2 separate regions of the Homo sapiens genome follow, and region 2 is linked to region 1. Evidence: fine-mapped QTL for protein levels in blood plasma. Region 1 holds a variant in brackets. A gene starts in the other region. All regions are shown on their forward strands. Region 1 overlaps KCTD17 (potassium channel tetramerization domain containing 17). Region 2 holds the start of AHSP (alpha hemoglobin stabilizing protein).

The links. PIP is the posterior inclusion probability: the model's chance that the variant is causal. The UK Biobank Pharma Proteomics Project read protein levels with antibody pairs (Olink). The fine-mapping took linkage between variants from a reference panel, not from the people measured, so its PIPs are less certain.
Region 2: AHSP starts here. The variant in region 1 is fine-mapped to the plasma level of the AHSP protein (UK Biobank, PIP above 0.99).

Annotation. Positions count from the first base shown.
Region 1 is chr22:37,059,005-37,074,221 of GRCh38, forward strand. KCTD17 (potassium channel tetramerization domain containing 17) reads left to right here. Exons shown (of 9, transcript NM_001282684.2): 5 at 309-434; 6 at 1,819-1,918; 7 at 2,100-2,171; 8 at 2,535-2,625; 9 at 3,521-4,386. The coding sequence ends at 3,590. It overlaps TMPRSS6 (transmembrane serine protease 6), which reads right to left. Exons shown (of 18, transcript NM_001374504.1): 13 at 14,528-14,641; 14 at 11,912-12,028; 15 at 11,480-11,648; 16 at 10,069-10,340; 17 at 7,822-7,958; 18 at 6,432-7,234. The coding sequence ends at 7,076. Among named protein-coding and RNA genes, the nearest start is that of KCTD17, 15 kb to the left of the region's middle. RefSeq lists enhancers at 1,693-2,550, 2,551-3,408, 4,261-5,084. The variant A/G (reference allele first, on the strand shown) is at 7,892.
Region 2 is chr16:31,520,776-31,535,992 of GRCh38, forward strand. AHSP (alpha hemoglobin stabilizing protein) reads left to right here and starts at 7,125. Exons shown (of 3, transcript NM_016633.4): 1 at 7,125-7,187; 2 at 7,361-7,439; 3 at 7,683-8,028. The coding sequence starts at 7,365. The coding sequence ends at 7,916.

The sequences.
Region 1 (15,217 bases):
GGCTCTGGGGCTAGGCTGGAGGTGGTGGTGGGGACAGCGGTAATGCTGCCACCCTCCACCAGGGATCGGGCCAGCCAAGCCAGGCGGAGGGGCTGGTCCTGGGGCACAGACCACAGGCACAGGTTGCAAGGGGGAAGACTCCACCTTCCTGCCCAGAGGTGCCCTCTACAAACCCAGGAGTGGGCCCGACAAGCCGCAAGATTAGGACCTGAGCTGGTATCTTGATTTGAGTGCCGAGGTCTGTCGTATCCTGCCCCACGGCCCCCAACACCAACCTGCATTTTTCTCCCCATGCTCCGCCCCTCTAGCTGGTGAACATCGGCTCCTCCTACAACTACGGCAGCGAGGACCAGGCAGAGTTCCTGTGTGTGGTGTCCAAGGAGCTCCACAGCACCCCAAACGGGCTGAGCTCAGAGTCCAGCCGCAAAACCAAGGTGAGCCCACCCGCCTCAGCCTGTGTCCGGAGAAGTCTCCTGTCTCCCTCCACCCTCCCCGCCTGTCCCGCCCCTGCGCCTGCACCATCCCTCCACCTCTCTCCCGCCACCGCCCATGCACAACCCCATGCTCACAGCCACCGCCATCCATCCCATGCCACCTGCCGTTACCCAGGCCCAGGCTGGGAGCAGTGAAATGAGAGCATCCCCAGGGTGCAGCCGGCGTGGACTCAGAGGCTACATGAAGGGGGCCGCTTAGTGGCCACTGGGCACTGTGGCATGGACTAGGGGTCAGGGCACAGTGTGGCACTCTCTGTGTGACTTAGGACAGGGCTTGTCCTCTCCCAGCACCTTTGCTGCACTCTCTGAAGTGAGAGGGGAGGATCACATACTCTTTGTAGTGCCTTGGAGCCTGGAACTTCTGGGATCCCAAATGGCCGTTTATTCCCCAGGGACAGGTGCATGTCCCCAGCTGGCCTGAGCCAGGATGAGGAAGCCACCGCTGTAAATCCTGCCCCTTTCCCAGGCCCCCTCCTTGGCTGCTCTGCAGGATAGGGGCAGCCTGGTGGCTGCCAGTCCTGTGTGTCCGCCTGGCCTGTTGAGGCAGCCTCCTGAGAGCACCCTGGCAGCATCCACTGTACCACTGTGGGGAGAGGGCTGAGCGGGGGTCCTGCCATCCTGGACCCAGTGCTGTGGGAAGTCCCAAGGGCCTTCGCAGAGCCACAGAGCAGGCGTGAACCAGGCTGGGAAGAAGGCAGGCTGCTCCTCCTGGGGCCCAACCCCACACAGTGGAGGCTTACCTCTGGCTTCCTGTCTATCTGTCTGCCTCCCTGTCCTGCTGTGACGCACCCTGCCTGCCCACCCACCCCCACCACTGCCAGGGCTGACGCTGCCCTGCAAGGGTGCAGAGCGAGACTGCTCCTTCTGCCTCTTTGGGCCAAAGCCCCTGGACCTGGGGTGTCAGAGACTGGCTGGCATCCCAGATCTGGGTGGTGTCTGCCCTGGGGCTTCCTTGGCCACATTTCTACTGAGGAGCAGTCTTTCCAAACAAGGCCTTCCCAGGCACCCCTCAGGGATACCCCAGTCCCACACCCTCCCTGTTCTGCTTCATCCCCTCCCTCCAGCCTCGCTCTATGTAACAGCAGCCAGGCTGACCCCGGAGCATGCCCACAGCATCCCATCCTCAGCTGCTTTCCCCAGGCCCTCCCCAAGCTGCCCAGGGGACCGGAGAAGATGCCCCCAGCTTCTGTGGCTGGAGCCCTCCCCTCTCCTGAGGTCCCTTTCACCTTGCCTGAGACCGGGTCTTTGGGGATAGCCAGCAGGCCCTGGCCCCTCTGTTAGTGTCTCCACTCTTTCTTCCCTGGGTCCGCCGGCTGGTTCACAGAGCACGGAGGAGCAGCTGGAGGAGCAGCAGCAGCAGGAGGAGGAGGTGGAGGAGGTGGAGGTGGAACAGGTGCAGGTGGAGGCAGATGCACAGGAGAAAGGTGCAGCCAACCCCCAGGAGGATGATTGCTAAGCAAAGCCGGAGCCTCCCGCCCACTCCTTGCTGGAGCCAGCTGCAGAACCGGGGGCCCCGGGGCTGCTGGGGGGGCACCAGGGTTAGCTCAGCCACTTGCCTGGCGCCTCACCCGCATAACCATCCCTTCTCTCACTTTCTCTTTGCAGCCCAGTCATCTCAGGATCCCGCTAACCTTTTCTCCCTCCCACCACTGCCTCCTCCTCCGCTTCCCGCTGGAGGTCCTGCCTCATCTTCATCCACCTCTTCTTCCTCCTGGATCTCATCTGCACCCTGCCTCTTCCCTCTCTGCCCCTGTCCGGGTTTTCTCTCTGCCTGCTCACGCCTCCATCCCGGGTCTGCCCTGGTCCCAGCCTCCCGTGCCCTCCACCCAGGCCCCCTGGCCCTGCATCCCAGAGCGTCCTGCCTGCCGCCTCCTGCGCCCCTTCTGGTACCTCCTGCCTCCCAGCCTGGGGAGGAGGGGCGCAGCTGCACCTCCTCTGTGCCCACTAACCCTGCCGGGCACCTCTGAGACTGGGCCCTGGCTGCAGGCCCTGCCCCCCCTCCTCTCCTCCCGGCCTCCTCCTCACGTTTCCTCCTTGCAGGTTCCCGTCCGCACCCTCTCAGACCTGAGGCTGAGCTTGCAGTGAGGGCTTCTCCTCGGCCCCTCGCCCGCCCCCAGAGCTGCCATCCCTGGTTTGTAGCTTGGCGGTGCTGGAGGGAGGGGTGGAGCGAGGAGGGTGCTCATCTCTTGATCCTTGGACTTGAGCCGAGCTTTCGGCTGATTATCTCCACCCACCAAAGTTTCTCATCCGACCTTGGCCTTGGGGGTGAGGCTCTGAGAGGAGAAGAAAGTTAGGGAGTGGGAACTTTCCTACCAGCCCATCAGCACCAGAGCCAGGCTGGTGGGGAGGGAGGGACCGCTGAAGCCAGAGGCCCTGGCCAAGTCCCTGCACATCCAGGAGCTCCTGTGTCACTGCCTTGTGGCATCCCCTATTTCTGTGGGGATGGGGAGGACAGGCCACTTTTGGATACCCTTGGCCCATGAAGTGTCAGCCAGAGTGGCTTAAGGATTGCAGAGTGGCAGAAAAAGCCCTGGCCATGTGCCCACAAGCCCCCTATCCCACTCTTTTCTGCCTGCTCTGTGACCTTGGGCAAGTCACTGTCCCTCTCTGGGCCACAATTGCCTCTAAAATTGGGACAGACAGCTGCTCCCTGTGGCTTCTTTCGCCTGGGGCATCAGTGCCTCTCCCAGCCCTGAGCAACCCCCATCCCACCCCCTTCAGAGTCTTGGCAGAATCTGGCCTCTGTAGGTGGCCGCCACCGAGCCCAAGACGGGGCATGGGGCTCCTGGATGGGTTAGTTGGGGAGCCCTTGCTGCTCCCCCCAACTCAGTTCTGAATCCACCTTCTTTGGGCCTCAGCCCCACCCCCTCCTCCAGAAGGAAGCCTGTGACTCAACTGCCTCTCTCTCTCTCCCTCTCCCCCACCCGTCAATCTCCTCTCCGCCCCCTTGCCCTGCATCACCCCCTCCTTACCGGCCCCACCTCCGCCCCTCCCATCCTCCTGCCCTTCCCCTCTTTTTTTTCTAGCTGTTACAAGCCAGAGGCACCCGGATGTGAGGCCCCAGATCACCTCCAGGGACTTGGGGTTCCCATCTGAAATCCTTTATTTTTGTACCATGGGGTGGGCCCCGGGCCTGAGAAGGAAGAAGCACCCTCTCCCCGGCCTCCTCTGTCTGCACCCGTGGGGCTGTGACTTACTCCTGCCTCCAGGGGCGGGGCGGGGCCCCCCTGGGACCTCTTAAGGCCCAAGGTGGGCCCCAGGACCTCTGGGCAGAGTGGACTGCTCATGGCAGATGTGTGGCAATGTCTGGCTGTGTCTCTCCGGCACCTGCGTCCCCTCTCCCGGGCTCCCCTGCTGCATGGTGGATGTGCTCCTTCCTGGCCCGGTCACATTGCCTCCTTGAGCCTTAGTCCAGGGGGTCACTCCTCCCACCCCACCTACCTCACAGGGTTGTTGTGAGGGTGCACAGAGGAGCAAAGTCCCTGAAGGCCCTCAGGCAGTATATAGGGGCCGCCCACCTTCAGCTGCCCTGGGATGGGAAGGACCCAGCCCGACCCCTGGGCATAACACTGTGTTTGCAAATGGAGATTCAGGTATTGGGGATGCAGGTTGTGGGGAGCTGGCCTGGCAGAGTAGGGGTAGTTGGCTTGGCCTTCTCTTTGGTGATCCCACCCCCAGCCATTTGCATTGCTGGCCCAGCGCCTGGCCTGGGGGGCGGGGAGAGGCAGCAGAAGGGGCTGGGCAGGGGCGGTGGAGGACTCAGGAACTGCCCGGGGAGAGTGGGTATGGCGGCTGAGCCAGGGGCCCTCCTGTGTTTGACTTCCCGGGATGGGTCCTTGCTTCTCAGCTGTGTCCGACCCCACCATGTAATAAAACCCAAAGGAACAGCCCAGCCTGGCTGTTGCCCTCTTTCTCTGGGCCACTTTTGGGGACGGGGCTAAACTAAAGGTGTGGTAGTCTGGTCCAAAGGAACGCGGCTTTGTCCCAAAAGCCCAGGGACGCTGCCCTGTTGTCATTTTCCTGTGTGTGTTGCAGGGAGGGCTTGGGGAACTGGCTATATCCTTTGCCCTGGGGCCGGATACCAGAGCACCTGCCCTACCTGGCCGGGAGCCAGAAAACAGAACTCTAGGGAGAGCCCTGGGCTGCCTCTGCCACATCCTAAACCTCTCAGCGCGCCCCCTCCACTTCTACTCTGACACCTGGGCCACCGCCATCCCTCCCTATTGCTGCCACCCCTCTGCCCAAAATCCTAGGAAATATAAACACCCCGCCCTCTCCCTTCTCTGACCCTGCTGGACCCAGCCCAGACCCCAGACCCTCCACCCACCCTGGCCAGTTCCTTCAACTCCTCAGTCCTCCCCGCTGCTCGAGGAAATCCTGCCGGGCAGTGAGCCCCTAAGGCGCAGGCCTTCCACAGGCTGGGGCGGGGGCACCCTCTTGCCAGCTCAAGCCTGGAGGGCCTCGCCACTTCCCCTGAGGACACTCCACTCCAAAGCTGGACTCATTTTTAGGGTCCAACTATCCTTGCAAAAGAGTCACCAGGAGGCTTGTTAGGAGAACAGATGACACGTCCCCCGCCCTCCAGGATTCCGATGAAGACTGAGGTAGGGCCCAGGGTGATTCCAGATCACCCAAGGTATTCTGCATGTGTTCTGCCCACCTGCTCTGGAGACGCTCCCTGCCCACCCAGCTGCTCCGGCTCGTCCTGGCAGGACCCAGGTGGGTGCTCCCCGTCCCTGGTTCCCCTTCTGCCTCATTCACCCACAGACCTGGCAGCAGCGCCCATGTTGGAAAAACCCCTCTTCAGTCTGGGGCCCCTCTGAAGCTCCCTCTCTCCCTTCCGCTCCCAGTTAGGCGTCTAGAAAGAGTTGTCCACACTTGACCGTCCACCCTCACCTCCAGCGAGCCCCCTGCCTCCATCACAACTGCCCCCAGGGGTCTAAAATCATCCTCCAGTCCATCCCATGGCGCTGCTCAGTCCCGGCCCATCCTCTCCATCCTGGAATCCTGCGGTGGCCTCCTAACCAGCCTCCCTGCCTGCCGCTCCCTGCACACTGGTGCCAAGGCTGGTTCCAAAATGTGAATCCTCTCATGTCACTCCTATGCTATAGAGCCCACCGTGGCTCCCCAGAGCTTTCAAGATCAAATCCTTGGCTCAACCCCAGGCTCTGCTATCCCGCCTCAGTTCGCCCCTCTGAATTCTTGAGTCATCCTCTCGAGCTCTGTTCTAACACTCACTCGGCTTGCTGGGTCCTAGCGTGCCTCATTCTTCCGGGACTGTGCCTTTGCACGTGCTCTTCCCTGCCTGGAATATCCTTCCCGGATATTCCCACCTGGACCACCTCTGAACCCCAGCTCAAGTCTCACAGCCTCCAGGCAGCTTGCCTTGACTTGCCCAGTCCACGCTCCCCTCCGGCCCCTTCCCACTGGATCATCCCCACTGCTCCTGGGGTCAGGAGCCAGGTCCTTCACCCCTGTGGCCCCAGCATAGTGCTGGCACATGGTTGGAGCCCAAGGCTTTATTCAGTGGCTCAAAGAATGCAAAGGAAGGGAGTGTCGCACTGGACGGGGCCTTGGCAGACAGGGAGCTGGGAGACAGGAGTCTATGCCACCTCCACTCCTAACCCCCAGTGCCACTATGAGGATGTCTTAACCGCCTCTCTGAGCCTCAGTTTCCTCCTAAGGTTCCAAAAGGAGACGATTGCTCCTCACATCCCTCTGACCTGAGGGTCCCCAAATGATTGCCTTCCTGGCATTTCTTCTGGGACCTGGGCAGCTGCCCTGCAGGCCCCAGCCCTCAGTGGCCACGCCCACTGCCACTGAGCCCACCTTGGCCTTCTGGACACTTGTCAAACAGGCTGAGCAGGAAGCAGGGGCTGCTCCAGTCAAGGGCATGAGGCTGGTGCCTGGGTCCCATTCAAACTCCAGCAGCGGGGCTTGGATCAGGCAGCTTTATTCCAAAGGGCAGCTGAGCTCACCTCCCAGTGAGGGTCTGGGCTGTGAGGGCCCAGGTGGCAGGCAGGGGTGGGGCAAGGACCCTGGAGTCAGGACTTCCCCACCTTTTGGCTTACAGTGGCAGCAGGCCCACCTGGCAGTCTCCAGGGCTCTGAGGGTCCCCTCCGATGGGAGCACCTTCCATTCCCAGATCCCAAGTTAGACCAGGGGCTTCCGAAGCTGGAATCTGCTCTCTGGAGGCAAGGCTGCCCAAACAGCCTCTGTACAGAGTGGGGCGCACCTCAGACACTCCTCGGGATGTAGAACCAGCATTCTTGCTGCTGAGCCACTGCCTTGCATTAGGCAGCAGTGGAGGAAGGGGACGGAGGAGAGAGAATTGGGAGGCAGAAGGGCTGGGTGTGGGCCTGGGTCCTCAGGGGACGTCTTGACCCCCAGCTGCTGGCACTTCTCCATCCTCCTGCCATCACTGGAGCAGACATCAGGGACGAGACAAGATGCCACCTCCTGCCACCACAGGGCCTGCTCTCTCCCCCACCCCCCGCCAGAATACTTGTCCCCCTGCTTGGCAGTTGCCCTGGGCTCTCTGAGTCCAGGAGGTGGGCCCTGCTTTGCAGGGGGGCAGTTCCTCAGGTCACCACTTGCTGGATCCAGCTGATCACACCTGTGATGCGGGTGTAGACGCCGAAGTAGTTAGGCCGGCCACAGCCCAGGCCCCAGCTGACCAGCCCCGCCAGGAACCAGCGGCCACTGAGTGCCTTGCACACCAGCGGACCACCTGAGTCACCCTGAAAGGGGGAAAGGAGAAAGGACTGAAGCAGGGTAAGGGCACCCCCTTTTCCAGGTGAAGAGCCATAGGGATTAAGTCCTGACTGTTGGGAATTGACTGGGTGCCAGAGTCACGTTCAGTCTTAAAGCTCTGCTTTCCCCTCGCCTGCTAAATGGAGAGAGCCCAAGCCAGCCCTCCCCGGCCTCCAGCCAGCCTGGGACCTCCTGGAACTGTGGCTGTGTCCCCACGCCCCCACTCTGCCTCCGCCTCCCTTCTGTGGCTGACACCCCTTTCTTCTTCCATGCATCCACCTCACTGTGGGACCCTGGGCCTAGTGCCTTGTGGTGGGCAAGGAGCAGAACTGGGTTTGAGCCTAACACCTGCCCATCACAGCATCTCTTCTGATCTGTGGCTCTGCAACCTTGGGCAAGCTCCTCAACCTTTCTAAGCCCCAGTCTCCTCTTCTGTAAAGTAGGGGTGGCCATCACCACCTTGCTGGGAGGATGGGAGGCTTCAGCAGGCTGATGTGAGCAAAGGGCCAGACCCTGGTGATGTGGGCAGCATCCTTTCTCCCTCCTCTCTCCCTCCCATGCCCGGGGGACTCACCTGACAGGCATCCTTCTTGCCCTTGCGGTAGCCGGCACACAGCATGCGTGGCGTCACCTGGTAGCGATAG[A/G]CCTCGCTGCACAGGTCCTGTGGGATCAACTGCACATCCACTTTCTGCAGAGCGTTGCTGATGGGGCCTGTCCGTGGTCAAGGGCAGAAGTGAGATCTCAGGAGCCTGGAGCCCCTGTTCTCTATTCTCCCTAACATTATTCCCTTTGCATCTCAGGAGCCTACTTCTCTCCTGCTCTGCCCACCCTTACCCCTGCTAGGGTCGCACCTGCCCCTCTGCCTCCCTGTCACTTTATTCTAGCTCTTTCTCTGTGGGGTTCATGGTGACAGCCCCCGACCAAAGCCCATGTGGAGGGCCGGGCACGGTGGCTCATGCCTGTAATCCCAGCACTTTGGGAGGCTGAGGCGGACGGAACACCTGAGGTCAAGAGTTTGAGACCAGCTTGACCAACATGGAGAAACCCTGTCTGTACTAAAAATACAAAATTAGCTGGGTGTGGTGGCACATGCCTGTAATCCCAGTTACTCAGGAGGCTGAGGCAGGAGAACCGCTTGAACCCGGGAGGAGGGGGATCCGAGCCGAGATCGCGCCATTGCACTCCAGCCTGGGCAACAAGAGCGAAACTCTGTCTCAAAAAAACAAAAAAAAGAAAAAAGAAAAAAGCCCGTGTGGATGAGTGTCTTCCTCCAGCTTCTTGTCCCCCACCTCTGTCTGCTGAGGCACCTCTGGGCTCTGGCTGGCTCCTCGCTGCTCTGTTACAGCACCTGCAGATGTCTCCGAAGCCCACATCTGATCCCTTCATGGTTTCCTTAGAACTCTGCAGTGCCCCAACTCTGCAGTCTGCCCTAGCGCTTCTCCACGAGGGCTGCATATCACAGTCCCCCGGGGAGCCTTGATACGCAGTTTTTCTTGAAACTCCCCGTATGGTTCTAAGGTGCAGGTAGGAGGGAGAACTCCTGGCCTAAGATCCTTATGCTGGCCGGCAAGGCCCTGTCTGCCATTCTGGTTGCTCCTCGCCCAAGGCCCTGTCTGCCATTCTGGTTGCTCCTCGCCCAGGCACGCCTGCCCCCCACCTCAGCCCCTCTGGCAGGCTGCGGATGTTCTCACATCTTCCTGTCTTGGCACCTGTGTCTTCACCTGAATGTCTTTCCCCTTTGTCTGAATGTTGCCAACTCATCTTCCAGGCCTCAGCTTAAACAACCCTCCCCTGGAAGCCTCCCCTGACCCTAGCTGGGCAGGAGCCTCCTCTGTGTCTCCACTGTTCCTGCATCTCCCCATCCATGTCAGCTCTTACCACTGTCTGTCTCCCCCGAGAATGTTCTCTCTTCATCCTTATGTACCCTTCCCCTAACCCCACGCCTGGTACGTACTTGGTGCTCAGAAAGTGTCATTGAGTGACTGAATGAGTGAAGGAATAGTGAATGAACCAGCCTTTGCTTTGCCATGACCACTGCCATCCCCTTGGGTAAGTCACTGTTCCTCTGAGCCTCAGTTTCCCCATCCTTAAAATATCTCTGCGGCCCCGCCTGCTTCCAGATTGTAAGTCACTGTACACATTTTTGAAGCCACCAACACTAACGCTGCAGGGCATGTCTGTAGGTTTGCCAGCTGGGTCTGTGTCCCCAAAACTGTGCGGTGGCCGCCAGGGACTCTGGTCAGTGAACGTAGAAAGGGGAGAGACCCTGTTTCTGAGAGCAGTAGCAGGAAGAGCAGGGGCTCTGGAGGCAGCCAGCCCTGGGTTCTAATCTTTGCTCCAGTCCTCTCTGGCTGTGTGACTTACAGCAACATGTCTCTGAGCCTTGGTTTCTCCATCCATAAAATAGGGCCACAGCATCCGCCCGTAGGGCTGTTGGGTGGATTATATGAAGTCAAGTTCCCCTAAAATCCAGCCTGGATGTGGAAAGTGCTAGTAATTAAGAGCCTTCCACCCTTGCAGCCCAAGGAACAGCAGGTGGAGCTTGCACGTGGGCAGTGGCGTCCCAGACCTGCCCCTTTGCCCCACACATAACGCCCTTCCAGAAGGAAGGGAAGAGCTAGGAGGGGAGGGGCAGGGGCCTACAGGCCGCATTAAATGGTGGTTTTCTACCGTAAAATTCAGCCCAATTTGAATCCCAGCACTAGAGGGCCTATGGGGTGGAGCCCCGGGACCCCCAGCCCCGCCCTTCTCCAGGCCAGGTGTTACGGCGCAGATCCGCACGGTCTCCCTCCGCCTCCCGCCGCAAGTCCCCGCTGCTCACCGCCCTCGCGCAAGGCGCCCCAGCCCGTAATCCAGCAGTGCAGGCCGGGCTCGAAGAAGTGGGAGCGCGCGGGCAGGCAGACGGGGCGCACGGCGGCCGAGCGCACCACCGGGTGGTCGAGCTGCAGCAGCGCCACGTCGTAGTCATGGCTGTCCTCTTCGTGGTACGGGTGCAGGAGCAGGCGGCTCACCTTGAAGGACACCTCTCCAGGCCAGCGCGAGTTCTGCCACACCTTGCCCAGGAACACGGTCCACAGCACCGTGGAGGCCATGCTGGGGTGGGGTGGGGTGGGGTGGGGTGGGGTGAGGTGAGGTGGGAGGAAGCTGCCTCTCCCCATCCAGGGACCCTCAAGATAGCCAGATCCCCGCCCGGGACAGTGCCCTCCACACCCAGCCCTCCCTTCCCTCCCTGAAGGTCGCCTAGCTGGTGGTACAGCGTTCAGCCTTCACCCACTCGGCCTGCCTGGGTTCCACGCCCCAGCTTCATCCCTCCCTAGACATGGGTGTGCCTCTCTAAGCCTCTGCCACCTCATCTGCAAATGGGAATGGCATTTTCTACTCGAATGTTCTTGAGAGAATCCAATAAGACCGTGTATCTAAAAAATGTAGCACAGTGCCAGGCCCCCGACACAGATTTCTTTTTTCCTGTGTGCTTTACAGACCCAGGCTGCTCTGAATTCCCTGAGGCTGGTGGGTCCTAGTGGGGAGCGGGTGGGAGTTGAGCGTGGAGGAATTGGACTGCGGCAGTCAGCTGCCTGGGTGGCAGATGGGCAGCCTTCGGGTCTCTACCCTCTACCTGAGGGCAGTGGGGAGCCTGAGATGGGGTTAAAGAGAGCTAGGTGGTCAGAGCGCCCTGCGTCCCAGAGAGGATACAAAAGGGGATCCCTGTGCAGGGCCTGGGGGCGGGATCTGGAGCCCAGATCTGTCTGGGGGTGGATTGGGGGAGGTTTCAGCCCACCAAGCAGATGGGAAAGATGGCCATGAGGCCTGATGAGATGTCCCCTGGGGGCTCCCCAGCCCCACCTGCTACCTCGTGTCACACCTCGGGGAGTGTCATAGCTTATGACCAGGTTGGGCAGTTCTGTCCTTTACTGAATCCCCAGCATCTAGCACAGCCCTGGCACATAGTAGGAGCACAAGTGTTGCTGAATGAGTGAATGAGATGAATGAATGAATTACTGGCCCAACTTAAAGCAAGATACCAAAAGTAGATGGCAGAGAGGTGGAACAATGTGTCCGGGGACCCAGAAGGTCCTGGTGGAGCCAGGACTAGAACTCACATCACAGTAGCCTGTCTGGGGGGTCCACCACCCTTCCCTCTATCTGCAAAGAGCTCAGACACAGTGCACCTCCCACCGGGCCTTCCCTGCCCTTGTCTCTTACTGCCTAGGCCCCCACACCCTCCCGCTCACCTGTCCTCCTGGAAGCAGTGGGCAGCTGTTATCACCCAGCGGTCAGCGATGAGGGCCCCCCCACAGATGTGTCGACCCCGAACCTGGAGGCTGGCCTGCCATGGCCACTCACCCTCGGAGGACACAGCTCCACCAACAATGCGGCTGGAGGGGCCCTGGAGGCCACAGTCTGGGGATGGGGGCAGGTGGTGGGGTGGACAGAGGAGGAGGGGAAGGGGAGAAGCAGACAGAGAGGAAGGGCAAAGGAAAGAGATGGAGAGACAGAGAACAGGAGAATGATGGAGGGGGAGAGACCATCAGGACCCAGGCAAGGGGGCAGAGGATGAGATAGAGAGAGACCAGGGGACAACAGTGAGATTTCCCTCCAGCTTCCTGCTGTGGGCACCCCCTCCCTCCCAAGCTCCAGGGCCCCGGCAGCCAGGCAGGGCTCACCACAGTGCTCCTCATCCGAGCCGTCCCTGCAGTCGGGCCGCCCATCACACTGCGGGTTGGGCTTCTTCACGCAGCTCCGGTCCTCACACTGGAAGGTGAATGTCCCACATGGCACCCCTGGGACAGAGGGGATGGGGGCAGGGCACAGAAGGTGGGTCTCTGAGCCCCAAGGAAACCTTCCAAAGTGGGGTGCAGGAACGATGGAGCCAGAAGAGCCAGGAGGTGACTAGAGAGTCTTTTCCTGAGTCTCCTTTAGGGTCTCCTAAAAGCAGGCCATGTCCCCCCGCCCCCCACAGCCCCTCCACTCAGACTGGCCTATTGAGCACAAAGTGGTGTCTCCATTCTCAGACTGGAGATCCTGACCACAAGATCATGCCTCCCCCTCCAGTGTGGAACTTGAAGGCAGAACTGTGCCTCCACTTTTAGACCAGGGTCCGCACCTAGCCTGGCAATCTCCCAGGCTCTGGCCCTGCCCGGTTGTCCACATTTTCCTCCCTGCTCTTCACTGTAAAGAACTTTCCACTCCACCACTTGGTCTTTGCCTCTCTCCTTTCCTCCTGCCTATTTAAGTTTTAGCTCTCACCAAGGGCCAAACACCTACCTCCTCCAGGAAGCTTTTCATGTCTGACCTCCTCCCTGCCCTCCAATCTTCCTACAAGGCAGGAGAGTCACCCATCATATCCTCCTACTAACAGATGAGCCTTGGAAGGCAGGGCCTGCATCTCTGCTGTTTTATTCTCACTTCCTTACTGCACCTTGCCTATCGCTGGGTAGCCTGCAAGTGTTGGTCAGTTGGTCAGTTGGATGGGTAGATGGATGGATGGATAAATAGACCCAGACAGAAGACTGAGCAGACAAGCCAATGGGTGGAGTGGTGGTCCATTAGGGAGACTGACAGACAGCTAGAAGGTTGGATAAACGTGTGGATATAAGGACCAGTGGACAGACAGGGGGCTAGGGAGATCAGTGGATGGGTGGATGGATGGGTGGATGGATGGGTAGATGGATGGATGGATGATGGATGGGTGGATGATGGATGGATGATGGATGGATGATGGATGGATGGATGGATGGATGATGGATGGGTGCATGGATGGATGGATGGCTGACGGATGAATGGATGGATGGTGGATGGATGGATGATGGATGGTTGGATGGATGATGGATGGATGGATGATGGACAGATGATGGATGGACGGATGATGGATGGATGATGGATGGATGGATGATGGGTGAATGGATGGATGATGGATGAACGGATGATGGATGGATGGATGATGGATGAATGGATGGATGGATGATGGATGGATGGATGGATGATGGATGGATGGATGATGGATGGATGGATGATGGATGGTTGCATGGATGGATGGATGATGGATGGATGGATGATGGATGGATGGATGATGGATGAATGGATGGATGATGGATGGATGGATGGATGATGGATGGGTGCATGGATGGATGGATGATGGATCGATGGATGATGGATGGATGGATGATGGATTGATGGATTGATGGATGATGGATGGATGGATGATGGATGGATGGATGGATGGATGGATGGATGATGGATGATGGATGGATAGACGATGGACAGATGGATGATGGATGAATGGATGGATGATGGATGAATGGATGGATGATGGATGGATGGATGGATGATGGATGGATGGATGATGGATGGATGGATGGATGATGGACGATGGATGGATGGATGATGGACGGATGGATGATGGATGGATGGATGATGGATGGATGGATGATGGATGGATGGGTGATGGACGGATGGATGATGGATGGATGATGGATGGATGGATGATGGACGGATGGATGGATGGATAGATGGATGATGGATGGATGGATGATGGACGGATGGATGATGGATGGATGGATGGATGATGGATGGATGGATAGACGGATGATGGATGGATGGATGGATGATGGATGGATGATGCATGGATGATGGATGGATGAATGGATGGATGGATAGATGGATGATGTATGGATGGATGATGGACAGATGGATGATCGATGGGTGGATGACGGATGGGTGGAAGGATGATGGATGGATAGATGGATGATGGATGGATGATGGATGGATGGATGGATGATGGACGGATGGACGATGGGTGGATGGATGGATGATGGATGGATGGATGGATGGATAGACGGATGATGGATGGATGGATGATGGACGGATGGATGATGGATGGGTGGATGGGTGGGTGGGTAGATGGGTGGGTGGATGGATGGATGGATGGATGGATGGATGGAACAGTGGCCATATAGACCAGTAGTCAGCCAAACCAATAAATGGGTAGATTGACAGTTTGATGATAGGGAGATTGATGGTTGCACAGGTCAGTAGATGCATAGATAAATGGGTAGCTGTATGAATCAATGGACAGACGGTGATTGGAGACCAGAAGATGGATGGATGGATGGATGGATGGATGGATGGATGGATGGATGGATGAATGGACAGACATACAGATGTAAATACAGAGGGGTTGGTGGGTGTTGAGAGGAGAAGCTAGAAACTTTTGCTGAAGCATGTAGCAGGCCTAGACTGCCTTTGGTGTCCCTCCAGACACTCGGCTAGGCCTGCCCTACCTTCCTGGCACTGCTCTTCGTCGCTGCCGTTGAGACAATCAGGCTGCCCATCACAGACCTTGGGCAGTGAGATGCATGTGCTGTCCTCTTTGCACTGGAATGTGGCTCTGCAAACTGTGTGGGGACACAGAGAGGGGACAGGTGGGAGGAAGCCAGAGGAGCCAGCCGGGGCTTGGCGATGCCTGTAGAAGGTGTGCTGTATTGCACGTTACCAATCACAAATCTCTTTCTCTGCTACTTTATTTTTATGTCTCGCTCTTGTCACGAAGGCTGGAGTGCGATGGCATGATCTCACTGCAACCTCCCAGGTCCAAGCGATTCTCCTGCCTCAGACTCCCGAGTAGCTGAGATTAATTACAGGCTCCTGCTACCACGCCCAGCTAATTATTGTATTTTTAGTAGAGACGGGGTTTCACCATGTTGGCCAGGCTGATCTTGAACTCCTGACCTCAGGTGATCCGCTCGACTCCGCCTCCCAAAGTGCTAGGATTACAGGCATGAGCCACTGCGCCCGGCCTCTTTCTCTGCTATTTTACACCCAAAGTTTCACAGCAACCCTGTGAGATACCCCATTTCACTGGTGGAAACAGATGAGGTGACTTGTCCAAGGTCACTTGGCTGAGCCAGAACTTGAAGCCAGATGTTCAGTTTCTGAATATGAGGTACCTCCCCCAGCACCGTGGCAGGATC
Region 2 (15,217 bases), not on the chromosome of region 1:
TTATTACCCCCATCAAACATGAGAGAAGGGGAAAAGTTCTTAAAACACAAGCAGGAGGTATTTCCCTCCTACTTTTTATATTTCCACAAAGAGCCAAAAGCCAAGTATATGGCTTCTGTCCTTCATTCTCACAGTGTTCAGAGTAGCCAGCCATGTCCAATGAGGAGGGTTCAGGTGCATAGAGCAGTCTTCTAAATACTAATCTACATCTTTTTCCACTACAGCATTTTTATCAAGTCAATTTAAAAAGTTTTGGTTGATTAAGGAAACGTTTTTAAGGCCTGGTGCAGTGGCTCATGTATGTAATCCCAGCACTTTGGGAGGCCAAGGTGGGCGGATCTCTTGAGGTCAGGAGTTGGAGACCAGCCTGGCCAACATGGTGAAACCCCGTCTCCACTAAAAATACAAAAAATAGCCAGGCGTGGTGGCAGGTACCTGTAATCCCAGATACTCAGGAGGCTGAGGCCGGAGAATCGCTTGAACCTGGGAGGTGGAGGTTGCCATGAGCCGAGATCGCGCCACTGCGCTCCAGCCTGGGTGACAGAGCGAGACTACGTCTCAAAACAAACAAACAAAAAACCTTTTAAAGTATATAAACATTAGTTTCAAAATTCTGGTTGGCAAAACAACTATGTCAAGTTCATGAAATATAGGGGAAGTTCCAATGAAGTGTGAGAGCTAGAGTTACTCCCAGAGCGAGCTTCGGGGCTGCTGTCCTGTCCTCAGGGTGCTACAGTCTTTCTAAGCTACATAGGTCACACATGGAGCTGACCTTTCAAACACACAGTTGCTGCTGTGTAAGAGAAATAGGGGACCTTTAACTCTGCTCCTCTGGATGGAAAGAAGGTGTCTCATAGGTCCTATTTTCCATACTAGATGTTAAGTACAGTCGCTATAAGAAGGTCAGTTTCAAATGATTTGCAAAGCACATTTACAAACTCTTTAACCTCAGGAGCATGCCCCTGAATACTACAAATATGGGGGTTGGGGAATCACTTTGAAAGCAAAGGGGGTGAGGCCTTTCTTTTCAGTGACCAAACAGGGTCCCTTGTACAATTCACAGATCCAGCTGCTAGCCCAGCCCGCACCTTAACTGGTTCCTGTGGGAACCCCAGCTCAGTTTGTCTCCAAGATGCCCCCAAATCCTCCAGCCTGGATGCTGCCTCCAGGGTCTACCCTTGTGGGGTTTCCCACTGAGACCCCCCTCACCAGAGCCCAGAAAGAGCCAACCCAAGCTCAGCCGGCAGTGGTTGCTCACTCCGGATGATCTGTCTGCTCTGCTGTCAGTTACACCACTGCTGTCTACTCTCAACCAAGTCTACACCAAGAGACGTCAGCGGCTCATGCCCAATTATGCCTTTCGTAACAACCCCCCTGCATCTCACCTGTCTCCAGCTCCCCACATCCCTTGAAGCTTGGTTTCCTTGATCAGGATTAGGGGTTTTCAGTGTGGCAGGGACTCCTGATAGTCGCAGAATGGCATCTCTGAGGCCAAACCATGTCTGAATTGACACTCCATGTTATCTAACTTTTTCACTCTCCTCTGCTCTGCAGTGTGGGGTGGAGTTCCCCAAAGCAGAAGCAGTTGTGAGAATTCAGCTGTCTCCTACTAATCCAGGTATTTCAGAGACCCCTGTAGGCAGAACACCATGGTCCCGAGATGAGCAGGAAGAACCCTTCCAATGGGTATGCGGTCCTGGGAAGTTTTAGAGAATCAAATTCCAGTTCTTTGAAGTCCATACTCACTCATTCTCAAAATCAACTAGGCCCGGAAACGGTGTCCAGGGGAGTCCCTGCCCCTGGGCCCTTCTCACGTTTCCTTCCTTCTCCCAATTGCCAATCTCACCTGCCTGAAATTTACAAGGGGCGTTGTCCCAGACCACCAGAATAGGGACCCTTCAACAATTCCCTCAATTCTATGCCATCCATCTGATTAGAGGATTTATTTCCAATACAATTGGAATTTCTGTTTCATAAATATTTATTAAAATTTGAAACATTCACTTTGGTAAACCGCATTTTACTAAATATGTGTCTATATATGTTATATATATATATAAATTTCCTCTTGAATATATATGTCAGAGCTGTCTATCCATGTATTTATACAGAGAGAGAGTGAGACAGAGAGACCAACAGAAAGACACAGCACATGAGAGAAGTTGCAAGTAAGTAGAATGGGAGTGAACAAAATACAAGCACAAAAGCATGTGAGTTATCTTAGGATAAAGTTAAGTGGGGATAGTGGAATAGAAATACAAGTTCAAGAAGTAAAAGGCATGTTGTAAAACTCCCAGCTGCTAAGGAAAAACCTGTTTGGTTTTTAAAAAAATATATAGTGGTCAGGGCCAAATCACCACCCCATTAACATTGTGTTGGACACATTCAAAAGAGCGATGTGCGGTTTGTTTAAATGTGTTTGGATCCTGTCACAATTAAAAGCCTTTGCTATGATTTAAATGTATGAGGCAAAAATAAATGTCTACAAAACTTGTGTGGGAGTATACACAAAGATTCTTTAGAAGGATTGGATGAAAGAATTTGAAGACAGTTAAAGGAAAGAATCCCTAGCTGACATTACTTTTCCTCCTGAAACATGCAGTGGGGCTGCCCAGGCCTTTGTCTCCATTTGTTCTATTTACCTGTAGGAAAATAAGACTTGGTTCTCATCATAATTTTAGCAGTCATGACGTACATGGCCTCAAGGGAGTTCCAGAGGATGTTTTAGGCTCCAGGAGCCATTTAAGGGATGTTTCTTTCCAAAGAAAATGTTCATGTCATGAATTTTATTCCACTAACATAATCTGAACATACGGGTCTACCTTTAAATAATGGGCCAGATGACCCCTGTTTATCTAGGAGTGCAGTCTTCTGTCAGGGCAGATGTCCTTTCTACTGTGGAGAATTGCATTTTGAGACCCTATGAGTCTGAGCATATCTGTAAGGGGCTGCTGCTGTCTATTATTAGGGCGGCCTCTTTAGCTTTGGCTCTACACCATGTGGCTTGAAGATTTTCCTTGAATTTGACCTGAGCCCCTGACCCCACCCACATTGCTGGGGAGGAGGGGCCCGTTCTGGACTCTGGCACCTGTAACTCCTGACCCCCGGTCTTGCTTGCAGCGGAAAAGGAGAGGCAGAAGAGGGAGGTGCACACTCAGCCACTCTGGGCATCCTTCCTGGGTGGACTGGGCCCCCTGCAGGGCCTGCTCTCACCTACCCAGGAGCACAGCTGATCTCGGCTGGGTCTCCCTCAGCACACTCAGGATGTGTGGGGCAGGTGTCTGCGAGTCCCCGGGGGACTCAGGTTCCTGGCCAGTCTCACTGCCCCCTGCCCCAGCATTGAGACCCTCATGTGGCTGCAGATGTGGCTGATAGTGCCAATCAAGGGAGCCTCTGTCTTCCCAAACTTAAATTTCCCCTCCCATAACCTATAACTTCAGCCCCCTCCATTTTCTGAGCTAAGCTCCAATTAGTGAAAACAAAGTCAAGTGGGAGTCAGGGGACAGGAAAGTGGCCCAGGGGTGGGGCAGAAGAGGGGGAAGGGACAAGTCTCTCTCGAATGGATCCAGAGTGAGCTCCTCCCTCTTGCGAGTAGCCATGCTGCCAAGACGCTGACCTTCAGATGCGCAAGGCTCATGTCTCCTCCCCAGCCCTGGGACCCTCTGGAGGCTGCAGGTCCTGATTGCTGTGCCAGTCACAGCAGGAACAGGCCCCAAAAACGTCACATCTCCAGGAAATAAGACCAAGGTTCCACCTAACCAGTTCAGCTCTCACCTCCCTCCCAAAATGTTCACAGGGGAAACCATGGGCCAAACTATGTAACATGAAATCTACAACCTTTTTGCCCTGACTCCAACCTGGTACTGCCACGAGCAAGTCAGGGTTTTGCGTTGACTGAGTGGGATTTGGGTCATCAATTCCAATCAGATTTCTGGAGAAGGCTCTTCTTTCCCTGATGATTGAGGTCTTCATTGCAGTCCTCTCGGTGGAAGGAGAGGCCTTCCTGGAAGTCCAAACAGTTCTCTTTTCCTCCCTCTGGCTAATTTCTTGTTCAGCTGAAGCAGAGCCTGCCTCGATGAGGGAGTTCCTATTAGGTTTCTTAATTTTTAAGAGACATCACCAGAAGTGAATTCCTCTGTAAATCAGCAGTGCTTTATTTTTCTGTTGCAGAATGAGTTTGTGATCCTGGTTTTCTACAATTCTTTAGCAAATGTGTTTTTGTAATCTCACGTTCAACCCTTCCTTTATTGATGTATCTAGCATGCTGAAAGGGAATCAGTTTCCCCTGCTATTCTCAAGACACTGGTTGAGGGAGGAGACTTCAATTCTTCACTACATCTCACTAATTTTACTCTGCAATTCATTATAGTCCAGGTAGTTAGATTAGTTCCAACTGTGCCAGGAAATTTTGAGGAATGAACAAAATTAGATTTTTTTTTCCTTTTTTTTTTAAAAGATGGGGTCTCACTATGTTGCCCAGGCTGGTCTTGAACCCTTGGGCTCAGACGATCCTGCCGTCTCTGCCTCTTACAGGCATGAGCCACTGTGCGTGGCTTCAATGTTAGATGTGTTCTTGGCAGCATGGTCTTCTAAGCCATCTGAGGCAGCACCATCTCTTTTGAGTTTCCTGGCATGTACCAGAGACCTTCCTGAAACTTTTCCTTAATGAGCTTTGGAAGGGCATTGGGATCTTGATCTTTCCCATCTGGTAATGAATTATTTTTAAAGAAATATTTAAGAAAAATTATTTAGAAGTGAAAGGATGTAGGAGACAGTCGGCCTGGTGTGATGTGAGAAAGACTGGACCTGGTGGTCATTGCTGGCTTTCAAGCTGGAAAGGGACCAGGAGTGAAAGAATGTGGGTTCTTCTATAGACTAGAAGAGGAAAGAAAAAGAACTCTTTTTCAGAGATTCCAAGGGGAACACAGCCTAGAGGACAACTTAATTTTAGCCTAGTGAGTCTCATTTTAGATTTCTGACCTCTAAGTCTGTAAGATAATAAATTTATTTATTTATTTATTTATTTAGAGACAAGGTCTCACTCTGTCACCCAGGCTGGAGTGCAGTGGCGTGATCTTCGCTCACTGCGGCCTCTTCCTCCTGGGTTCAAGCGATTCTCCTGCCTCAGCCTCCCAAGTAGCTGGGATTACAGGTGCATGCCACCATGTCTGGCTAATTTTTGTATTTTTAGTAGAGAGGGGGTTTCGCCATGTTAGCCAGGATGGTCTCGAACTCCTGACCTCAAGTGATCTGCCTGCCTTGACCTCCCAAAGTGCTGGGATCACAGATGGGAGCCACCGTGCCTGGCCGGTAACACATACTTTCCACCCTATATAAATGAAAACATGTTCACATGGAAACCTGTACACAAATGTTTATAGCAACTCTATTCACACTTGCCCCAAAGTACAAACAATCCAGATGTCCTTCCGTGGCTGAATGAACAAACTACAGTGCATCCATACAATGCAATGTGTCCACTGACACTTGTGACAACTTGGATGGAGCTCAAGAACATCATGCTGACCAAAAAAAGTCAGTCTCAAAGGTTACATACTGTATGATTCCATTTATATGACATCCTGAAAAAGGCTTAACTGTAGTGATGAACAGATAAGTGGTTGCCAGAAGTTATGGGTGAGGGTAGGGGTGGCTACAAAAGGGTAACGTGAAGGAGTGGTTTTTGGGTGACAGAAACATTCTGTATCTTAACTGCGTTTGTAGTTACACAAATCTGTTATAAAATTAATAAACTAGGCCAGATGCGGTAGCTCACACCTGTAATCCCAGCACTTTGGGAGGCCAAGGTGGGTCGATCACTTGAGGTCAGGAGTTCGAGACTAGCCTGGCCAACATGGTGAAACCCCATCTCTACTAAAATACAAAAATTAGCTAGGCGTGGTGATGCACGCCTGTAATCCCAGCTACTTGGGAGGCTGAGGCAGGAGAATCGCCTGAACCTGGGAGGTAAAGTTTGCAGTGAGCTGAGATCGCATCACTGCACTCCAGCCTGGGCCACAGAGGGAGACTCCCTCTCAAAAAAAAAAAATTTAATATACTGTACACCAAAAGGAAGTCAGTTTTGCTGTATATTGATTAAAAAATGCTACAACCAAAAAGGCAAATCAACAAAGCTTTATGAGTGTATAGGCACCTATGAATGTTGGGTTTTGAATGGAAAAAAAAAGTGACAGGAAATATACAATGTTTAATGCTGGTTACTTTGGAGGGGGCAAAAATGATTCAGTTTTTCAGTGTACGTTTTTGTATTGTTTTAATTATTTCAATTAGTATATAGTGATTTTGAAATTTGAGAAACATCTACTGAAAATGGAAAATATCTGGAAAAATATTTAAAAAGAGGAAAAAGAGTATTTCTGCTTTATTGGGTACCTGTTGACAGGGTAGTAAACAAGACAAATCCATCTCCATTCTTTTTTTTCTTTTGAGATGGAGTCTCGCCCTGTCACCCAGGCTGGAGTGCTGTGGTGTGATCTTGGCTCACTGCAACCTCTGCCTCCTGGGTTCAAGCGATTTTCGTGCCTCAGCCTCCCAAGTAGCTGAGACTACAGGTGCCCGCCACCACGCCCGGCTATTTATCTCCATTCTTATGGAGCACAGCGTGGTGGAGTTCAGTCCACACGCTTACAGGTGGCTTATCTGCAAAATGTGTCTAAAAAGAAATTTTATAGGATAAATATTTTGTACATGTTTGAAACAGTGCTTGGCACAAATGAATAAATGTAATGCAAGCTGCTATTAATACATCATCTCCGAATTGGGAGAATCATTGCGATCACATCGTTGTGATTACACAAAAGCCTCTGTCATGTAATAGGGCTCAGTAAACGTCAATTTCCATAGCATTTCGAGCCTGGATACTGAAATATGGGGCAAAAAGCAGGAACATGCCCCTGGTTTGGCTCTTGCCTTCTTGCATTTCCTGGGTTTCCTCATTTATCTTTTTTTTTTTTTTTTTTGGCCTTGTTATCTTTCTACCTTCAGGGAAGCCTCTCCCTTCTTCTCCTCCCTAGAATGACCTATCACCCTCCTTCAGGACCTAGATGCAGGGCGTTTCTATCTTAGGCTGACACTTGACTCCTTGCCTACATCTATAGCTTGGCACAGAGAGATTCACGCACCCTCAAGAGTGTGGGTGAGACATATACAGCCTGTTAGACCTGAAGGTGAGCCCAACCTGGGAAAATCGTGACCTCAGAGCAGGGCAGGATGTGAAAGGTTTTGGAAAGGAGATAGCCCTGCAGGGCAGGAGGGATTTTTAAGGGGAGGAAGTGGGTTGGGGGAAATACCCAGTGAGGAGGGAAACAGATATGTAAATTCTACCCTTTTCTCTACCCAGGCAGATGGCTCTTCTTAAGGCCAATAAGGATCTCATTTCCGCAGGATTGAAGGAGTTCAGCGTTCTGCTGAATCAGCAGGTGAGTCCAAGCTTTCCATTTCAAAGGACTGGCCTGGAGACTGGGGGGTGCCGGGGAAGTGGAGGAAGAGGATAATTGGAGCTGGTGAAGTAATGGTGGAGTTGATGGAAACAACGAGAGACACGGGATACAATGCAGAGGAAAGAGAATGTGAGAGTTGGTGCTGTGGCACTATTCTAGTATTCCCGAATCCCATTGCTGACCACATTCTCCCTTGCCAACTGCCTCTCCGCAACCCCCCAGGTCTTCAATGATCCTCTCGTCTCTGAAGAAGACATGGTGACTGTGGTGGAGGACTGGATGAACTTCTACATCAACTATTACAGGCAGCAGGTGACAGGGGAGCCCCAAGAGCGAGACAAGGCTCTGCAGGAGCTTCGGCAAGAGCTGAACACTCTGGCCAACCCTTTCCTGGCCAAGTACAGGGACTTCCTGAAGTCTCATGAGCTCCCGAGTCACCCACCGCCCTCCTCCTAGCTCAGGGACCCAGCCCCTCCTCTCTGAGAAACTCTGACCTTCATGTCCTTAGGCTGTGCTCCTGCCACTCTACCCTGACACCTCAATAAAGACCAGTGCTGGTTTTGTTGGACTTCCTGGCTTCTCTTTCATGGTCTGTCCTGACATGTGGAGGCACTCGGTCCCTTTCCTTCCGCCCTCCTTCTTAGATATGCTCTTGGAAGCTTAATTCCTTACAGCAGAGGTTAGCAGCCTTGAGTGACCACCGGGCAGCGATTCTAAACTAAAACAGGCTGAACGAGGGCCAGGAAGGCGGGACTAGAGAGAGTGCAGAGCTGCAGGGGAGGGGGTGGCAGAAACAAGAAAGGGGGATAGAAGTCCTCCAGACATTGTCCTGTGACCTGCTTGTCGAGGAGGAAACTGTTGGAAGTCTCCCAGTCTTGTTCATCCTGCGCCAGGTCCACCGCCTCGACTTTTCAATCCCCTGTCCTTAGCCCCAGCTCAAACTACATTCTAGGATCTTCGGACTCTGACTACCGCAAAATACCTCCCCGGAGCCCCAGGCATCGCAGGAATTTAGAGTTGGAAGGGATCCTGGGAACCCTTTAGCGCGCCCCTTATATTTCAGGAGGGGAAGCCACTTCCCTTTGGCTCCAACATCCCTGGGCGCAGATGCCAGGATTGGGAAGCAGAGGAATCCGCCTTCCCCCCACCCCAAGCTTCTCAGATCAATTCCCGGTCTAGCTCCCTTTCTCCCAGACCTCCAGACTCGAAGCCTCTATTTTAGGGCTCTGGGCGGAACCAGGGACGGGCCAGACTCAAGAGCTTTTTAAAAACGAAATGAAGGTGTTAGACCCGCGGCGCAGTCTCCAGGAAAAGCCTCCACGCGCAGAGGGGAGGGCCCTCCGGGGGAGGGTGCGCGGGGCGGGGGCGCGCGGGGGGAGGGGGTTCCCGGGGTGCTGAGCGGGGGCGGGGGTGCGCGGGGCGGGGGCGCGGCTAGGAGGCGCCGCACAGCAATCAGACGCGGCTCAGGGTGCGCGCGGGGAGCTGGAGGGCGCAGTTCTGGACCTTTTCGGTGTTCTCTCTAACGCGGGAAAAGTTTGGGGCCCAGAGGGATTGCTCCTCGTTCCAACCTCCAGCAAGCTTTCCTCTGGGACTTGTGAACCGACTGTTGTTTTGTAGGTCTCTGCAGCCTGGATCAGGGTGGAAAGGGAACCCGCTCAGTGTCCCCAGCGGTGCTTCCAACCCTGGGGTGTGGTCGGCCCTAGATCCAGCTTGGGAGAGTGGCGCCTCCCAGGGAAGCAGGCGGCGAGCTCCTCTGGGTTGGGGTCGGTGGTCCAGGCAGAGTCTGGGGCCTTCTCCACGGCACCTCTCAGGAAATCTCAGTCTGTGAGTGAGGACCAGAGCCCGCTCAGGCGGGACAGTAGTCGGCAGCCTCACCTTTGCAAGAGAGACCTGGCCTGGTGTGTGTGGGTGGAGGAAAGTGAGTGGGGGACGCTAGGAGAGCGCACAGCACAACGCTCCGGTGCCTTATGCAGAATGGCGAAATGTTTGCATGTAACCCACGCACATCTCTTCGTGGACTTCACATCATGGCTAGATTACTTACAATACCGACTACAACGTCAATGCTGTGCAAATAGTTGTTACACTGTATTATTTAGGGAGTAACGACAAGAAAAAAAGCCTGTACATGTTCAGTACAGAGGCAACCATCCATTTTTCTCCCCAAATATTTTCCATCCTTGGTTGGTTGAATCCACAGATGCGGAACCCACAGATACGGAGGGACCACTGTATTTGTCTTTCAGCTTAGCTGAAAAGAATGTTAGAAGCCGCTTTGGCTCAATTCATGAAGAGGAATTTTCCATACCTTTATAACTATCCAGCTATGGGAGCTGCTGAGCTAAGCACTTCTCAGGTGCTCAAAGGAAAATGACCAATTACAGGTGTAAGGTAGAAAAGATTCTCACTGGGAAGTTCAACATTGAAACTCCATTCCGACCATTCCATAAGCTTGTGCAATTGAGAAGCTGCAAAAAATATTTTTAAGACAGAAAAATCTGTTACCTGCACTTTCTGCTCTCATATTACTATCAACGAAGTGACTGGTTATAAATCTACAAGAAGTAAAATTGGGGATATTTTGATTTTTCAGAGACGGTGATATGAACCTGATGGTTCATAATAATAAAAATAAAATAACTAAAGCAGAGAGTGCCCCAAATCCATTACTGTTCCTGAAGGAAAATAAATTAGAATTAGTAAGAATAACCTTCTTTTGCTTAGCAGTATCTGAATTAATACTAGAAATAAGATTGTAAATAAATGGTAAAACATTATAGCCATAACCCTGCCCTTATCCTCACCCTCATATTGAACCTGACCTAGAGCTGACCCTGAACTTGAGCCTCACCTCTAGCTTCATCTTGCCCCTGATCATAATGGACACCTTGCCCTCACAATGACCCTGACTCTCACACTGACATTGCCTCTCATTCTCATTCTTATACTGATCCTGATGCTGAATTGGACCCTAAACTTTACCTGATCCTAATTTTCACCCTGTCTCTGACCCTCAACCTGAATCCTACCCTGACCCTTACCCTGAAATTGACCTTCACTGACCCTTCCCTTAGCATGATGTTGACTCTGACCCTCACTATGACCCTGACCCTTGATCCTCAACTTGACCTAGACAGTGATCATAATTATGACTTTTTTTTTTTTTAAAGAGGCAGGGTCTTGCTCTGTCACCCAGGCTGTAGTGCAGTGGTGCCAGCATGGCTCACAGCAACTTTGACCTCCAGAGCTCAAGCGATCCTCCTACCTCAGCTTCCTGAGTAGCTGGGACCACAGGTGCATGCCACTATGCCTGGCTATTTTTTTTTGTATTTTTTGTAGAGATGGGGTCTCACTATGTTGTCCATGCTGGTCTTGAACCCCTGGCCTCAAGCAAGCCTCCCACCTTAGCCTCCCAAAGCACTGGGACTACAGGTGTGAGCCACTGCACCTGGCCTTTAACCATGACTCTTGACCCTGAAGCATACACTCTCACCTTGACTCTGACCTTGCTCTCGTTCTGACACCACCCCCTCCTTCACACCTGAGCCTTACCCTGGTGCTCACTCTCACCTTGCATCTGACTGTGACACTCACCAGACCCTGATCCTGACTGTCACTTACACACTCTATCTCGTTCTCACCCTGACCCTGATTCTGTACTTGACCCGGACCCTCACTTTTGCCTTCAGTTTTAGCATCACCCTTAATCCCAACCGAACATTGAAGCTAACCCTACAGTGGCACTCAACTTGACCCTCCCCTGGCCTGGAAATCTTAATGTCACCATAACCCTCATCATGACCATAAATCTGACCCTTACCTGACCCTGACTCTGCTGCTTACTTTCCACTGACCCTGACTTGACCCTTATGGTCTCCTTGATCCTGACCTCACCCTGACTCTATAAGGACCCTTATCCATACCTTCACCATGTCCTTGAACCTGCTGTGAATCTGAAACTTATGCTGAGCCTGAACTACACACTCAGCCTGACCCTGGCACTAAGTCTTTCTCACTCTGTGATGAACTCTGACCCTGAAACTGACTCTGACCCTCGCCCTGACCCAGGCTTTGAATGTTTGCCTCACACTCCTTATCCTCACTCTGACACTGACCCCCACTCTGATCCTCACGATGACTCTCAGCTGGACTTTGACCCTGGAACATGACCCTTACCCTCATCAAGACTCAGCAATTTGCTCACACCTGTAGTCCTGGCACTTTGGGAGGCTGAGTTGAGAGGATCACTTGAGGTCAGGCATTTGAGACTAGCCTGGGCAACACAGCAAGACACCCCACCCCCATCTGTACAACAAAATATTCACATTGCATTACAAATGTCTGCTACATCATTGTAGTAAATTCTTTCTTTTTACTCCTATTAGTAGCTGCAACACGTTCTTATGATAAAACTCTGTGCCCAATTCTGACCACTGGAACAAGCTGGACACATCTGGCTTCTTTTTTTTTTTTTTTTTTTTTTTTTTGAGACGGAGTCTTGCTCTGTCATCTAGGCTGGAGTGCAGTGGTGCGACCTCGGCTCACTGCAGCCTCCGCCTCCCAGGTTCAAGCGATTCTCCTGCCTCAGCATCCCAAGTAGCTGGGATTACAGGCACCCACCGCCATGCCTGTCTAATTTTGGTATTTTTAGTAGAGACAAGAGTTTCACCATGTTGGCCAGGCTGGTCTCAAACTCCTGACTTCAGGTGATCCGCCTGCCTCAGCCTCCCAAAGTGTTGGGATTACAGGCATAAGCCACCAAGCCCAGCCACTTCTGGCTTCTTACCAGGGCTGTGACTTGGTGAGACAAAAGAGGAATCAGTGGGAAATTTAAGGAAGCCCTCTCTCGCAGGCTCGTGAAAGTGCAGGGACAGCTCCTGAGAGTGAGGCCTCCTTAAATGTTGTGTCCTGCATGCCTCACTTGCCTTACTCTCCTCTAGGGCCTGCTTCTTGTAGCTCCTAAAGGGTTTTGCCTTCTGGATATTTTTCAGTTCTCCTGCAAATGCAGATGGGCGGCCCATGCCCACTAGTGTTCCAGGCACATCCCAACATGTCCAAGTCCACTTAGAATCCACTGGAATCCCCGATACATTTGTTTGATGCATTTATATATTAATAATGCAGTAGCTCATGCCTGTAATTACAGTACACTGGGAGGCCAAGTTGGGAGGATCACTTGAGTCCAAGAGTCCTAAGAGACCAGCCTGGGCAACATAGAGAAACCCTGTCTCTACAAAAAATACAAAAATTAGCCAGGTGTGGTGGTGCGTGCCTGTGGTCCCAGTGACATGGGAGGCTGAGGTGGGAGGATCACTTGAACCCAGGATTTTTTTTTTTTTTAGATGGAGTCTTGCTCTGTTGCCCAGGCTGGGGTGCAGTCGTGCAATCTCAGCTCACTGCAGCCTCTGCCTCCCAGGCTCAAGTGATTCTCCTGCCTCAGCCTCCCAAGTAGCTGGGACTGCAGGTGCGTACCACCATGCTGGGCTAAAGAGTCCAGGAGTTCTAAGACACCAGCCTGGGCAACACAGGGAAACCCTGTCTCTACAAAAAATACAAAAATTGGCTGGGCGCAGTGGCTCACACCTGTAATCTCAGCACTTTGGGAGGCTGAGGCGGGTGGATCACCAGTTCAGGAGATCGAGACCATCCTGGCCAACATAGTAAAACCCCGTCTCTAGTAAAAATACAAAAAAATTAGCTGGGTGTGGTGGCACGCACCTGTAGTCCCAGCTACTCTGCAGGCTGAGGCAGGAGAATTGCTTGAACCCGGGAGGCGGAGGTTGCGGTGAGCCGTGATCCTGCCACTGCATTCCAGCCTGGGAAACGGAGCGAGACTCCAGCTCAAAAAAAATATATATATATGTGTATATATATATTTTCAAGGTAAGTAATCTAGCTTCTGTAAGCCTCAGTTTCCTATTTTTGTATGTGTGAGGGAATAAACTACTTGATCTTTCTATAGCAAATGTCATGTTTTTGTGAAAGGTTTTCTGAAGGTAGATGAACCAAATTAAAAATTCTGTAGATGTCAGAGGCCCATTTGTCCATGAGCATCCCCTCTCCCAACCTTGAAAATTACTGTATTGATTGGATTTTCCATATAAAACTTCTATTGTAGCCTCCAGAGTTTGTGCACTCATGAGAATTAATTACATTTTTCATGAATTTTTTTTTTTACACTTTCTTCCCTCTTACAACTTAAGAGTTTTTACTGATACCATAAACAAAACAAAACAAACAGGAATGTCACATAATGGAGTTAGTGGCCAAAATTAAAATATAAAAGACTTTAGTGTATAAATTAGGCTGGGCACGGTGGCTCATGCCTGTAATCCCAGCACTTTGGGAGGCTGAGGCAGGTGGATCATCTGAGGTCAGGAGTTCAAGACCAGCCTGGCTAACATGGTGAAACCCTGTCTCTATTAAAAAAAAAACAAAAACAAAAATTAGCCAGGCTTGGTTGCAGGCACCTGTAATCCCAGCCACTTGGGAGGCTGAGGCAGGAGAATCGCTTGAACCCAGGAGGTGGAGGTTGCAGTGAGCTGAGATTGTGTCTTTGCACTCCAGGCTGGGCAACAAGAGCAAAACTCCGTCTCAAAAAAACCCCCAAAAACAAACAAAAAAAGACTTTAGTGTATAAATTGAGTTGACTATAATGACTGTATACTTTTTGTTGACACATTATTCATTACAAATGTTTTGGGAGAGATGTGCTTGCATTTTCAATCTTAAGAGCGCATAGTTTTGTAGTTATAAATTCTATTACTGCTATATTGTTTCTAATACCTTTTACAGAAGCGAAATGTCTTCCTGCCACTAAATAGCATTTACCTGCAAGTGGAGAAGGAATCAAAGCTCATAAAACTGCAATACAAAATTTGTCTTCAGCAATAGGTTTAATTTTATTTTTGTAGATTTATGAACCTAGAAATTTATTGCTGGATATTTAATATATCAAAACAGCAGAACCAGGAGCTTGTATTAAGAAATGTATCAATAGCTGGGCGTGGTTGCTCTGCCTGTTATCCCAGCACTTTGAGAGAACGAGGCGGGGGATCACCTGAGGTCAGGAGTTCAAGACCAGCCTGGCGAACATGGTGAAACCCCGTGTCTACTAAAAATACAAAAATTAGCTGGGTGTATTGGTGGGTGTTTTAAATCCCGGCTACTCAGGAGACTGAGGCAGGAGAATCACTGGAACCCCTGAGGCGGAGGTTGGAGCCGTGAGCTGAGATTGCACCACTACACTCCAGCCTGGGTGACCAAGCATCACTGCACTTCAGCTTGGGCATCTTAAAACAAAACAAAACAAAACAAAAAAAAAAAAGAAAAGAAAAGAAAAAAAGAAAGAAATGGATTGGGAAATTCGTGATTTTCCTGTTTTTTTTTTCTTTTTTTTTTTTTAGTTAGACAAACTGAAGAGGCAAACAATGAGAAGTAACGTGACTTCTCACACAGCTCAGTGAACGTGGGATCTGCTCAGATGCTCTGATTTCTAAGCCCCCCACTCCCCACTCCTAAGTGTTAAGCTATTCTAACGCCAGGATATGTTGGAATTTATTCATCAACAAAAACTGCGGAACAGTTCTAAACAACGAAATATCATGTTAAAAAAAAACCGCTCTGGCTACAATAAGGAAACAGATTGTAGATGCAGATAGCATCAGGGAACCAGTAGAGAGGCTGCTGTGGTGCCTCCAGAAGGTAGTGGGGTGATTTAGATAAGAGGAGTATAAATAATCACGTGAAATTCTCTC